Homo sapiens: one gene and its partner. The protein of the gene in region 2 interacts with the protein of the main gene of each other region in a biochemical or structural test. Each region holds a gene or a part of one and is shown on either strand. Other genes may lie near its edges.

Region 1 (7,752 bases), on a different chromosome or scaffold from region 2:
GTATTCCTAAATTCACTTAACTTTGTTTCCAGTGTGCTTCTCTAGAATGCCTGAGGATGCCCCAGTCCAGGGACTAGTATTACTTTGTCCAGAAATAAACCTCTAGTCTTCTATGGGAGTAAGGGGGTAGAGTTACTTAGAGGTGTTTCTCAAATAGCTTTCATGTAGTCCACTTCCAATTTCAGGGTGCGTGTTTCAGTGCCTTTTGAGAATTCTGCAGAGTGAATTGGGTTTTTCTGGTGTGCTAAGTCACATTCATTCACCTGTTTTCCAGCTTCTGAGTTTTATTGCTGTTACCTCCTGTCCCCATTTTTCCAATTTATTTTTATATCATTTTACTGTAGATTTAGTAGTTTTGGAAGGGAGTAAAATTAGATGAGGGTATTTAACCCACTATATTAACTACTTCATTCTTTAAACTTCCTTTTTTTTCTTTTGGCAGAGAGCCATTAGCAGCGTGAAATAATCTTACTAAGAATGATTCTTAGGCTGGGCATGGTGGCTTGTACCTGTAATCTCAGCACTTTGGGAGGCCAGGGCTGGAGGATGGCTTGAGCTCAGGAGTTTGAGACCAGCCTGGGCAACATAGTGAGTGAGACCTTGTCTCTACTAAAAGTAAAAAAATATTAGCCAGGCATGGTGGCGTGTGCCTGTAGTCTCAGCTATTTGAGAGGCTGAGGTGGGAGGATCGCTTGAGCCCAGGAGGTTGAGGCTGTAGTGAGCCGTGATTGTTCCACCACTCCAACCTGGGCAAAATTCATTTTGAGACCCTGTCTCAAAACAAAACAAACAAAAAACACCTCTTCGGAACCATGTTCTTTTCACATAATTTAAAATTAAATATACATAGATGTAATTTCGAATTGCAAACTATAACCTGTTTAATGCCTAACAGCACAGCTTCATTTAATTCACAATTTGTAACTTGTGAAAGCTTTCAGGGACCTGGCTTAAGTTGTCCTTTTTAGTTGTTGGTCTTTTTACAAATTATGTATCATAAAACACTTGCCCAGCAAAAATGTAACTAGTGTGGCTATGGCAAATTTGTTCTTCTTTGATATGTTAACTTATATGAATTAATGCAGTTTATCTTTTTTTTTTTTTGAGACGGAGTCTTGCTCTGTTGACCCGGCTGGAGTGTAGTGGTGCGATCTTGGCTCACTGCAACCTCCCTCTCCCGGGTTCAAGCGATTCCCGTCTCAGCCTCCAGAGCAGCTGGGATTACAGGTGCTGATCACCACGCCCGGCTAATTTTTTGTATTATTTTAGTAGAGACGGGGTTTCACTGTGTTATCCAGGATGGTCTCCATCTCCAGACCTCGTGATCCACCCACTTTGGCCTCTCAAAATGCTGGGATTACAGGCGTGAGCCACCACACCAGGCAATGCAGTTTATCTTTATGCAGTTGACCTTGAAGCATTTAGGTTTACTTTAGCCACTAAGAGAAATAGGTCTCCTTGGGTTCACAATGTAGTGAATAAACAATTTTGAGTTCAGCAGGGCCCTGAGGCTGCTCCTGAACTCTGCATGAAGTCATGGAGGTTACTGTTTTAAGTAAAGAGCCAAGAGTTAAGGACTAAGAGAAGCCCCCTATTATTCTGAAAACTTGGATGTGTGCGCTGGATGAGACAGCGGTTGCAGTCCCCATTGATAGTTTTTTCCCCCTGTCATTCTAGGCTAAGGAGTTAGGACTTAACCAGTTCCAGTTCCAGGCTAATGGAAAATTGTCATTTTACTGGGGGTTATGTGGTGGCCAAAGTTGTTAATCATTGTTCCCCATGGGGTAGATACAGTGAGAGCTTCAGTAAAGCCTTTCCTCTAAAAGCCCACTATTTTAAGGTAACTTGGGATTACTGAACTATCTCCTTACCCCGATGAATCCTAACTTGAGTTGACTGAGGTGTTTTATCATTAAACATTAGTTTTACTGAAACTAATTTAAAAGGAAGCCTTAACTTTCATATCAAACAGCTATGGTAAACTGAGTAAGAACTCTGTACGAAGTCGCTATTAAAATGTTTTTATCTTGCTACCAGGATATGGATGTAAAATGCTAATAACTATTACACAACCTATAATAGTTACAGGTTACAATAGGGATAATAACACTTTAACCCACAAAGACTAGCTTAGTCCTACTACTTATCTATGAATAATGCATGTAGTCAATAACACTGGAAGGGATAGAGCATTATAAACTTATAATTCAGAGATGAGAAATGGTGCCAGTAATTTAAAAGTATTTCAGGTCTCATAATGCTAAAACAGGGTGTAGGTATGCCCTACAATTACAGAGAACTCAGTCGGGCTTGAGGAGAACAGCCTCACTTAATTGTAGTTTTCCTGTCGGTGTAAGGTGCCGGCGTTTCTTCATGTGGGAGGAGACTGAAATTCTAAAGGTTGTGTGGTTAGTAAAATTAGTCTGTGACCTCGGGAAACTAATGAGTCTTTGGGGCCTCAGCGATCTTCATGTTAAGGAATATTTTAGCCAGGAATTGCTTCATTTTCAATTCTTGTTTAGGGCGCTCTTAGGAAAAAGGACGCGTACGCTGCACAGAAAGTAAACAATAGAGCAGAAAGAAGAATCCGAAGGTCATTAATCTTAAAATAACCAACCCTCTGGAGCCAACTTATTTCTCTCTTTAAATTGCGGAATGAGCCCCATCCCCCTGCTGGATTAAACCGCAGAGGCCCAGGCCTCCCACCGGGTGTCCGCTGCATGAACCAGTCGCATGCCTGTTTCCTTCTCGAAACCCTCACAGAAAGACCCAACACACTCTAGGAAATAAACCGTCAACGTCAGGAGACGCTCAGAACCCTCTTCCCACACCCGGTGGTCCTCGCCCAGAGCATATTTCGCCTCCAGACCCCAGGATCCGGGAAATGGAACAAAACTCCCCGGCGGCGGCACTCACGCACTTTCCGGCACGCCGGAGCCGCAAAAGCCTCGACCGCTACGACTCCTCTGTCCGTCTACTGCGAAGCGGGGTGGCGTTGGGGGAGGTGGGCAACCTGTCAGTAAAGGGGGCGGGGCGCCGGCCGGAAGAGCCTCCGCGCGGCTGCGCTCTTTTCCTGGAGCTCAAGTGGGCGGGGCCTGTCGTCCGGGCAACCCGGGAGCGTTTGTCCACACAATTTCTGCTCCGACTCTGCGGACTACTGCAGTGGAGCTTGACTCTTAATGGTGAGCAAGGCAAATGAGGCAGACAGGTGGAGGGGCGACCACTGATTCTGCTTCACCAGTGTTAAATAATGTAATCAAGAGCCAGTCATATTTTACAGCGAAGCGGGTCGGTTTGGGAAATAACTCATACCTTGGGGTGGGTCGGCCCTCTTCTCAGCAATGGCTTTCCTTACCTGGACCAGGCGGACAGGTAGGAGTCCCAAACCAGTTTCTGCAAACGGGAGATGGTCAAAGCTGTCACACGGTATCCTGATCTCGAATGTTGCTAAGCTTGAAAATTGGTCCCAACCTAGTAACTTTCAGTAGTGATAGACGTTCCCACTAAATTTTCTTATTGCAACTTGGCGGAAATGTTTTAGTACTTCTCCAGCAGTTAATTAAAAGCTAATGCAATTTACTCTGCTTTGAAAAAATATTTTATGTCGTCTTTTGTGGGAATATGAATTGTTTTGTGATTCAAGGTTCTCATCCTGCATTAGTTAAATATGATAAGGCTTCTCATTTTGTTTTTCTGCACTCCTCAACTGCCATGTTTTCAGCAAGGAGACAGGCCAACATGTAGCTATGAGAGTATCTCTGATTTTCTTAAATGTGGTTTCCATCAAGACATTTTCTATAATTAAAACCAGAGGAAGTGGAGAATGTAATTACTTATTTAATTCATTAATTAAGGGAAAAATGTGGAGTGCATTCTTTGTACTTGGCACTGGGCTAGAAGCCAAGAATACCAAGAAGAACATGACGACAACTCTGCTTATAGGATACAGATTAAACAAATTAATTACAATACAGCTTTACAACTGTAACAATTGAAGCATCTAAAATGGGGTAACACACAGTTGGAAATGATGAAATTTCAGTGAGGGGAAACAAGGGAAGGAGAGTGGTGCTTTTCAACCTGTTTTAAAGTATAAATACGAGTTTTCCACATATGGTGGGAAGAAATAGGGAGTGGAGGCCTGGCGCGGTGGCTCACCCCTGTAATCCCAGCACTTTGGGAGGCCGAGGCGGGCAGATCACGATGTCAGGAGTTCGAGACCAGCCTGGTCAACATGGTGAAACCCAGTCTCTACTAAAAATACAAAAATTAGCCGGGCGTGTTGGCGCGCACCTGTAATTCCAGCTACTCAGGGGGCTGAAGCAAGAGAATCGCTTGAACCTGGGAGGCGGAGGTTGCAGTGAGCCGAGATTGTGCCACTGCACTCCAGCCTGGGTGACAGAGCGAGACTCCGTCTCAAAAAAAAAAGAGAAAAAAAGAAATAGGGAGTGGAGAGCATTCCTGGCGGAATGCAAATGGACCTTAAGTCAATTTATAATTGCTAATAAATTGGGGGAACAGTAAGCACTTACTTGTTACCTTCCAATTTGTTACCTGAGTTTCTTCTTCTTCTTAGATCCTTCTCCCAATGTTTCTCAAAGTGTGGCCCATGGAACATTTATTTCTAATGCACCCGGAGTACTTGTTAAAAATGCAGATTCCAGGAACCCACTCAACTCCAAATCTACTGTATTAGTTTCCTAAGTCTGCCAAGTAAGGAATTGCCACAAACTGAGTGGTTAAAGAAAAGAAATTTATTGTCTCGTAGTTCTGGAGACTAGAAGTCCAAGATCAAAGTGTCAGCAGGTCTGTGATACCTCTGAGGGCCTTAGGGAGAGATCTGTTCAGACCTTTCCTGGCTTCTAGTAGTTTCTTGGTTTGTGGCAACAAAACTTCATTCTTCACATGGCATTCTCCATCTGAGTATATTAAAATTATTATTATATAAGGACACAAATCATATTGGATTAGGGGCCCACCCTATTCAGTATGGCTTCATCTTAATTTAACTAATAAAATCAGCAGTGACCCTGTCTCCAATTAGATCAAATTCTGAAGTACTGGGGATCAGAATTTCAACGTATGAATTTTTTTTCTTTTTTTTTTTTCTTTTTGAGACTGTCTCGCTTTGTCACCTAGGCTGCAATGCAGTGTCACCATCATGGCTTATCGAAGTCTCAGCCTCCCTGGTTCAAGCAATCTTCCCAACTCAGCCTCCTGAATAGCTGGGAGTACAAGGCACGTGCCACCACACCCAGCTAATTTTTAAATTTTTTTAGACAGGGTCTTGCTTTGTTGCCCAGGCTGCCCTCAAACTCCTGGGCTCAAGTGATTCTCCCACTTTGACCTCCCAAAATGCTGGGATTACAGGAGTAAGCCAGTGCACCCAGCCAACATATGATTTTTTTTTTTTTTTTTTTTTTTGAGGCAGAGTTTCGCTCTGTTGCCCAGGCTGGAATGCAATGGCGCGATCTCGGCTTACTGAAACCTCTGCCTCCCGGGTTCAAGCGATTCTCCTTCAAGCGATTCTCCTGCCTCAGCCTCCCGAGTAGCTGGGATTACAGGTGCATGCCACCACGCCCAGCTAATTTTTGTATTTTTAGTAGAAACGAGGTGTCACCATGTTGGCCAGGCTGGTCTTGACCTCAGGTGATCCCCCTGCCTCGGCCTCCCAAAGTGCTGGGATTACAGCTGTGAGCCACCGCACCCGGACAACATGTAATTTTTTGAGCAATACAATTCAGCCCATAACATCTACTAAACCACAGTGTAGGAAGAGAAGTGAGCATACACACGTTTAGTCCATAAATATGCATTTCTAACAAGCTTCCCATATGATTCTTATGCCCTCTGAACTTTGAGAACTACTTCACTACATAGTGGCTATTATGACATATAGGAGAAATGAGGATATGTACTTACCCCAAACCTGATTTACATTAAAAGCACAAGTGAGAAGTGACAATTTGCCCCTCTTTAAAATATGGCTAATTGAGAACTGGAGCAATGCTATTTACATATTCAGCTGTTTAGTACTTATTTCACGATGGAAGTATGTTAACTATTAATTGATAGAAGCTATGATAAAAATAGAATCTATTTGTAAAAATTATATGGCAGCAAAGTCTCTACTTTTCTATCTCCAGTGCCTCAGATTGCCTTGTGTGTAAATCATTAATTAATATCTGCCGAGTGAATTAGTGTAATATATGCACTCTTCAAGAAGATGGAATCTACTGATATGTGTTAAACTTCAGTTTTACACAGTATAATCTTATGGGTTGAACTAATATTTCCCATGTATAACTCTTCAAATATGTAAAGTGTCTTATGTTCACATGATCTCCTATAAATTCCTTACCAGAAATCTGATAAACACATGAGCCTAATCAGGAAAGTATAAGTGATATTATTGTAACTGTGAGTCTTTTTTGAAATCCTGTGCTTTCCAAAATAATTTCCAGAAAAGAATAGATCTGCCTTAAAACACATTGCTGAATAGAATCTTCATTTTATCATAGCTTTACCTGCTTTATTTATTTATTTATTTGTTTATTTTTTGAGTCTTGCTCTGTCACCCAGACTGGAGTGCAGTGGTGCGATGTTGGCTTACTGCAGCTCCGCCTCCCAGGTTCAAGCGACTCTCCTGCCTCAGCCTCCCAAGTAGCTGGGACTACAGACACATGCCACCATGCCCGGCCAATTTTCTGTATTTTTAGTAGAGACGGGGTTTCACCGTGTTAGCCAGGATGGCCTCCATCTCCTGACCCCGTGATCCACCTTCCTCAGCCGCCCAAAGTCCTGGGATTACAGGTGTGAGCCACCACACCCAGCCGCCTGTTTTATTTATTTATTCATTTTTTGGAAATGCGGTCTCGCTTGGCTGCCCAGGCTGAGTGTCATGGCTCGCTGCAGCCTTGACCTCCCGGGCTCAAGTGATCTTCCCACCTCAGCCTCCCAAGTAGCTGGGACCACACGCATGTGCTTGGCTAATTTTTAAAATTTTTTGTAGAGACGGGGTCTTCCTGTGTTGCCCGGGCTGATCTTGAACTCTTGGGTTCAGGTGATCCTCCCGCCTTGGCCTCCGCGAATGCTATTACAGGAGTGAGCCACCGTGTGAGGCTACTTTGCGTGCTTTAAATAACTGATTCCCTTTCTATAAAAATCATCAATCTAACTTTACGGAAAGGTTATTTCTTTATGAGATCATTCCCACACTTGCAAATTTGACATTAGTGCCAATAATTGGTCAATGATTTATTGTCCTTTGAACCCTTTAAACTAGTGCCTTCTTGACTAGTACTCTGTTTAGTAACAGGGCATTTCATTAAACATGGATCATTGATTGTCCTAAGAAACAGTGTAAAATCTACATACAAAAAAATGGTTCAGTAGGTGAACTTAGTTTTTCTATACTTATTTGTAGTTTTGTCTGAACTCTTTTTAAAAAAGCATTTTATTTTGGGATAATTTTAGATTTGCAAGGAAAGTTACAAAGATGGTACAGAGAGTTCCCTTATGCCCTTTACCAAGCTTCTTCTAATTTTAACATCTTACATAATCATGATACTTTTGTATCAGAATTGTCTTTAAAATTGATCAATTCTTTTGTTTTCCAACTTTTAGGGTCCCAAAGCAAAAAAGGTATGTAGAATTTTTTTCAAAATAGATAGTTGTATAATCACTTACAGTGTATGAACAGAATATTTACAGAATTATAAAATATTTTTATAGTTTTAGTTTGTAGAGTTT
Region 2 (7,021 bases):
ATACTCTGACATTTTCTACCCTTTTTCGGAAAAATGCCAGCCCTCTGCCTGGATGTCATGATCACACATGGTCACAACCTAATTTGGAAAACACCAGCATGAAAGACCTCTTTGCTAAACAGACAAGGGAGGTAAGGGAGGTGGGTGGCAAACCCCACCCATTTGCTTCTGCACATCATTTTTGTCTCTCCTGGGCCCCACTGTGTGCCTGGCTCTGAGCTGGATCCTGGGGACACCATCATGTGCCAGGGAGAGAGGCTTCCGGTGTAGACCAGGGTGTAGCGTGAACCACTAACCACTCTCCTATTAGTTTCTCTCGGCTGCCGTAACAAATCACCATATATTTGGTGGCTTAGAATCTTACAGCTCTGGAGGCCAGAAGTCCAAAGTCAGTGTCACCAGGGTGAGACCAAGGGGTCTGCAGGCCCCGGGAGGAACACGTTTCTTGCCTCCTCCAGCTTCTGCTGACACTCCCTGGCTTGTGGCTGCATCGCTTTATCTTCAATGCCAGCATCCTCAGCTCTGTCTTCACGTGGCCTTCTCCTCTCTCTGCGTGTCTAGTCTCCCTCTGTCTCTCTCTTATAAGGACTCTTGAGATGGCATTCAGGGCCCACCTAAATAATCCAGGATAATGCCCCCATCTCAAGATGCTTAATTTAATCACATCTGCAAAGACCCTGTTTCTAATTTCTTTTTTTTTTTTTTTTAGATGGGCTCTCGCTCTGTCGCCCAGGCTGGAGTACAGTGGTGAAATCTCGGCTCACTGCAACCTCTGCCTCCCGGGTTCAAGCAATTTGCCTGCCTCAGCCTCCCAAGTAGCTGGGATTACAGGCATGCATCACCACGCCTGGCTAATTTTTGTATTTTTAGTAGAGACAGGGTTTCACCATGTTGGCCAGGCTGGTCTTGAACTCCTGACCTCAGGTGATCTGCTCTCCTCGGCCTCCCAAAGTGCTGGGATTACAGGCATAAGCCAACATGGCCAGCCTGCAAAGACCCTGTTTCTAAGTGATTTCCCCTTCTCAGGTGCCAGGGATTGAAACCTGGCTGTTTTGGAGGGCTATTTTATTTCTTGGCCCACCACAATCCTTTTTTTCTTTCTTTCTTTTTTTTTTTTTTTTTGAGATGGAGTCTTGCTCTGTTGTCCAGGATGGAGAGCAGTGGCATGATCTCAGCTCATTGCAACCTCTGCCTCCCCAGTTCAAGCGATTCTCCTGCCTCAGCCTCCTGAGTAGCTGTGATTACAGGTGCCCACCACCACGCCCAGCTAATTTTTTGTATTTTTAATAGAGACAGGGTTTCACTATGTTGGCCAGGCTGGTCTCGAACTCCCGATCTCTGGTGATCCACCCACCTCGGCCTCTCAAAGGCAGGGGATTACAGGCGTGAGCCACCGCTCCTGGCCCAACCTGAGTTTTTATAAGGTCATTCTGGATTCTTGGTGGAGAAAATTGGAAAAGGATGAGAGGAAGTGGGGAGAGAGCTGGGTGGCTGTTTGTCACCAAAGTGAGAGGTGACAGTGGCTCAGACAGCTGTGACAGCAGAGACAGATGCAAGAGGTTTCTGGAGGTGCAACTGACAGGCCATGGTTCGTGATGGGAAGATGACACCAAAAAGGGGCTTCCAGTCAGTACATCAGCCAGAGCCGGGAAGACGGCGAGTTTGGTTTGGGGCACAAATTTTTAAAAAGCCTCCAGGGACATCCACAGAAGCCTTGCTAGGGAGCTGCCCCATTTGGCCTGGAGCCTGCCCTCTTCCTCTTCTCCCATGTGGCCGCCACCCAGGGCTTGGCCAGAGCAGATCTCGGGTGGCAGCTGAGCCTGGTGAGGACACTGGGATGCTCTTGCTATTTCCCTGCCCCTTTTTCTCTGGGGCTGTGGGTGTAACTGTTCCTCCCACAGGCAGGACAGAATCCGAGATGAGAAGGTGGGACCCATAAGGGGCTTCCCACTCTGGCTGTGCCTCATGGAGAGGGTAACATTAAAAGATGGAGGACTGAGACCGGGCGCAGTGGCTCCTGTCTGTAATCCCAGAAATTTGGGAGGCCAAGGTGGGAGGATCACTTGTGCCCAGGAGTTGGATACTAGCCTGGGCAACAGGTTCTACAAACAACAACAACAAAAACAAAAACAGCTGGGCGTGGTGGCTCATGCCTGTAATCCCAGCACTTTGGGAGGCCAAGGTGGGCGGATCACCTGAGGTCAAGAGTTCAAGACCAGCCTGGCCAACATGGCAAAACCCCATCTCTACTAAAAATAAAAATAAAATAAAAAATTAGCCGGGCATGGTAGTGCACGCCTGTAATTGCAGCTACTCAGAGGCTGGGGCAGGGAGAATTGCTTGAACCCAGGAGGTGGAGGTTGTAATGAGCCAAGATTGCGCCACGGCACTCCAGCCTGGGCGACAGAGCAAGACTCCGCCTCAAAACAAACAAACAAACAACAACAAAAAAAAAAAAAAAAAAACAGCCAGGTATGGTGGCACACACCTGTAGTCCCAGCTACTCAGGAGGCTGAGGCGGGAGGATCACCTGAGCCCAGGAGGTCAAGGGTGCAGTGAGCCGTGATCATGCCACTACATGTAACCTGGGTGACAGAGCAAGACCTCATCTCAAAAAAGAAAAAGAAAAAGAAAAAGGAGAAAGAGGAGAAGGAGCTGGAAGAGGAGAGGAAAGAGAAAGAACTGTTATTTTCATCTCTCTCGTTGCCCAGGCTGGAGTGCAGAGGTGCCACCTTGCCTTACTGCAACCTCCACCTCCCGGGCTCAGGTGATCCTCCCACTTCAGCCTCCCCAGTAGCTGGGACCACAGGCGGGCACCATCATGCCGGGCTAATTTTTTTTTTTTTACTTTTTGTAGAGAAAGGATTTCCCCGTGTTTCCCAGGCTGGTCTGGAACTCCTGGCCTAAAGTGATCCGCCTGCTTCAGCCTACCAAAGTGATGGGATTACAGGTGTGAGTCGCAGTGCCTGGCCTTTTTTCTTAAAAAAAAAAACACAACATAGGAGTTGCCCCTTTAAGACAGAAAAGAACCTCATCCACCCATCAGTAAGAGGCCCCAAGCTTCTTGCTGTGAGTCAGGGAGGCTTCTGAAGGGCCTCAAGCCACATCTTGCTCTTGCTCTGGCAGAACTCCCAGCCCTAAGCTCCTGATTCCCAGGCTCCTGACTCCTGAGGAGAAAGGGTAAGAACTTTCCAGACACACACACACACACGCACGCACACACACCTGAGGAAACAAACTAGCTCATCTTCTCAATTAAGCTTGAGTTGATTTTAAGCTTCAAAAACAGTTTAGTTATATTACATAAGTCAGGAAACAATGGTAGGGCTGAAAAATGATAGCTTGTTTGTTTTTTAAATAATGATGGCTCATGCCTGTAATCCCAGCACCTTAGGAGACTGAGGAAGGAGGATCACTGGAGCCCAGGATTTCAAGACCAGCCTGGGCAACATAGAGAGACTTCATCTCTACCAAAAAACAAAATTAGCAGGTCATGGTGGCGTGCACCTGTAGTCCCAGCTACTGAGGAGGCTGAGGTGGGAGGACGGCTTGAACCCAGGAGGGTCGAGGCTGCAGCGAGCTGTGACTGTACCACTCTAGCCTGGGTGACAGAGCTAGACCTTGTCTCAAAAAGAAAAAAAAAAAGTTTTATAATTGAGGTAAATCATTCAGCATTAAGTGCTGGCTTTCTCTTAAAGAGACGACATATCCACCAATATCAAAAACAGCCTCAAAGCTGGGCGTGGCGGCTCACACCTGTAATCCCAGCACTTTGTGGGGCTGAGGTGGGTGGATCACTTGTGGTCAGGAGTTCGAGACCAGCCTGGCCAACATGGTAAAACCCCATCTCTACTAAAAATACAAAAATTAGTCGAGCGTTTTAGCACATGCCTGTAATTCCAGCTAGTTGGGAGGCTGAGGGAGGAGAATCACTTGAACCCGGGAGGTGGAGGTTGCAGTGAGCAGGGATCACATCAATGCACTCCAGCCTGGGTGACAGACCAGATTCTATCTCAAAAAAAAAAAAAGAAAAGAAAAAAAAAATTTTTTTAAAAGCAGCACTGACCCATGCAGACAACGAGTCAAGGGTTTTATATGCATTAACTCGTTTGACCATCCTAGTAGCCTGTGAGGTTGGTTACTGCCATTACCTCTCATTTTACAGATGAGGCAACTGAGGCACAGAGAGGCCAAGTACCTTGGCCAGGGCCACTGAGCATGGAAGTGGCAGGACCACGGGTCTAACCCCAAATCTGTCTTGGGAACTGTGAGACTCTGAAAGAGGCTACGTGTGCCCACGGTGTTAGGAGAGCCAGTCTTCCTATTTGTTGTCCACTGCAGGCAAGAGGGATTTTCTTCTCTTCTCTTTTCTTTCTCTCTTTCTCTCTCTCTCTCTCTCTCTCTTTCTCTTTCTTTTTGATACAGAGTCTTGTTCTGTTGCCCAGGCTGGGGTGCAGTAGTATGATCTTGGCTCACTGCAAACTCCACCTTCTGGGTTCAAGCGATTCTCCTGCCTCAGCCTCCCCAGTAGCTGGGACTACAGGCGCCTGCCACCACGCCTGGCTAATTTTTTGTATTTTTAGTAGAGACAAGGTCTCACCGTGTTAGCCAGGATGGTCTCAATCTCCTAACCTTGTGATCCACCCGCCTCAGCCTCCCAAAGTGCTGAGATTACACGTGTGGGCCACCGCGCCCGGCCCACGCCTGGCTAATTTTTTTATTTTTAGTAGAGATGGGGTTTCGTCATGTTGGCCAGGCTGGTCTCGAACTCCTGACCTCAGGTGATCCGCCCACCTCGGCCTCCCAAAATGCTGGAATTACAGGTGTGAGCCACCACGCCCGGCCCAAGAGGGATTTTATAAAGTGATTTTCGACAGCTCTTCCTGAACCCCTGACACAGCTCAAGGACTTGTGTGGTTCTGTCCTCTAGGCTTTTCTGTCAAGCGAGTCCCTGGGCACGTGCTAGGGCACTCAGCAAGCAGGACAGCCAAGGCCAGGGAGCCACCCCAGTGACAGATCACTAACTCGGCGGGGGGCAGACAGAGAACTCGTCCCTGAGGTGACATGTGAGCCCCACGTGTGCCCTGTCAGACAAGGTGGCCTTGCTGAGAGCAGGAGGGGCAAGTGCGTGGAGCCCAAAGAGGAAAACCTGAAGAAACACCAGGCGCTCCCAGACGAGAGGGTGTGGCTGGTCGGGGTTGGGCCCCGAGATGGAAACACGTTTTCTGGGCCTGGAGTTTCTATCCTGTGGGGTCATCTCTAAGAAAATGAATCCCAGATAATGAATACAAAATTGCCCAGCCTCTCCTGGGTTTTTTTTTTTTTTTTTTTTTTTGTGAGACGGAGTCTCCCTCTGTCACCCAGGCTGGAGTGCAGTGGCACGATCTCGGTTCACTGCAACCTCCGCCTCCCTGGTTCAAGCGATTCTTCTGCCTCAGCCCCCCGAGTAGCTGGGACTACGGGCACGCGCCGCCATGCCCAGCTAATTTTTGTATTTTTAGTAGAGACAGAGTTTCACTCTGTTGGCTAGGATGGTCTTGAACTCCTGACCTCGTGATCCACCCACCTCAGCCTCCCAAAGTGTGTGTTTACAGGCGTGAGCCACCAGGCCCAGCCTTTCTCCTGGGGTCTTGAAAGAGGCCCTGAAGGTTAAGCTTCATCAGCTTCCTGTAAAATGTGCCCCTGAACAGGACAGGGTGTTACTGAGTTGCCAAATACCTATTAAAATGTTAGATACACGCACATACCCAGAAACATACACACAGCCGGACACACATACACACACACACACACACACACACACACACACACACACACACGAATACACTCTGAGCACAGCATTTGTTATGTTTTGAATAAATGACTAACTAAACATCCATTACTACTACTCCCAATAAAAACACTTATTGCAGCTGGTCACAGTGGCTCACACCTGTAATCCCAGCACGTTGGGAGGCTGAGGCGGGTGGATTACCTGAGGTCAGGAGGTCTAGACCAGCCTGGCTAACATAGCAAAACCTCGTTTCTACTAAAAATACAAAAATTAGCCAGGCGTGGTGGCTCACACGTGTAATCCCAGCTACTCAGGAGGCTGAGGCAGAGTTGCTTGAACCTGGGAAGTGGAGGTTCCAGTGAGCTGAGATCATGCCACTGCACTCCAGCCTGGGCAACAGAGATAGACTCCGTCTCAAAAAATAAAACAAAACAAACCACTGTGTGCCAGGCACTGTTCCAAGGGCTTATTTAATTTTCATTACAACTCAATAAAGTAGATAGTACCATCATCCCCATTGTACAGAGTAGAAAAATGAGGCTTAGAGTGGTGAAGCAATTTCCTCAAGGTCACACAGCAGGAAGTGGACGCAGGCGCTGGGCTTGGAGTCTGAGGTCTGCACTATTCTAGTAGTGAACCCACTGTCTCAGGAAGCAGTGACCACATCAAACTGTCTCCCCCACACCTGGAGCTCAAATTCCAGAAGGGGCGACAGACACCAGAGCAATCAATAAGTAAACAACACTGTGGATTACAAAGTGTCCACACCAGCTTCCCTCTGGGGACAAGCTGGGCTCTCAGAGGGTGCCCCTGCTCCCACCTCCTTCATGGAGAATGTGAGTCACTCCCTCCACTCAGTTAGGTTGGCTCCTTGAACTTTCATCTCTAGCAAACATACTTTCCTCTCCCTTTCTAGTTGCTAAGTATAGGGGAAAACACAGCAAAACACAGGGACCTGGGGCCTGTGATTTTAAGGAGGCAAGCAGGGAAGTCCTCCCAGAGAAGGTGATGTTTGAAAAGGAGGTGAAAGAGGTCAGGGAGTGAGCACGTGATTCTGGGAACAGAGGTGGATCAGACATGGCCCCTCTCTGCAGGGAGCTACCAGCCTGGGGATGATGGAGTAGGGCAGTGGGGAACATGGGGTAAACAGAGGATCCCAATCCAGTCTGGCGAGGGCTGATGGAAGCAAATCTAGGGACTGCAGAAGCCCCCAGGGATATACCAAGGCAACCTGAGGGTGTAGGGTCA

What was found. Proteins that work in one complex are often made in the same cells at the same time.
Region 1: the proteins of ETFB (region 2) and ETFRF1 form a complex in vitro, tested with the Homo sapiens proteins (one study listed by BioGRID).

The regions. Positions count from the first base shown.
Region 1 is NC_000012.12:25,190,506-25,198,257, reverse strand, and holds the start of ETFRF1 (electron transfer flavoprotein regulatory factor 1), read right to left. Parts: upstream 3,022-7,752; 5' UTR 2,921-3,021; exon of another isoform or gene 2,917-2,920; intron 2,905-2,916; exon of another isoform or gene 1-2,904. Other genes in the region: DNAI7 (dynein axonemal intermediate chain 7), read left to right, coding at 3,196-3,372, 7,627-7,644. UniProt on the Homo sapiens protein: Acts as a regulator of the electron transfer flavoprotein by promoting the removal of flavin from the ETF holoenzyme (composed of ETFA and ETFB).
Region 2 is NC_000019.10:51,356,386-51,363,406, forward strand, and holds part of ETFB (electron transfer flavoprotein subunit beta), read right to left. Parts: intron 1-7,021. UniProt on the Homo sapiens protein: Heterodimeric electron transfer flavoprotein that accepts electrons from several mitochondrial dehydrogenases, including acyl-CoA dehydrogenases, glutaryl-CoA and sarcosine dehydrogenase.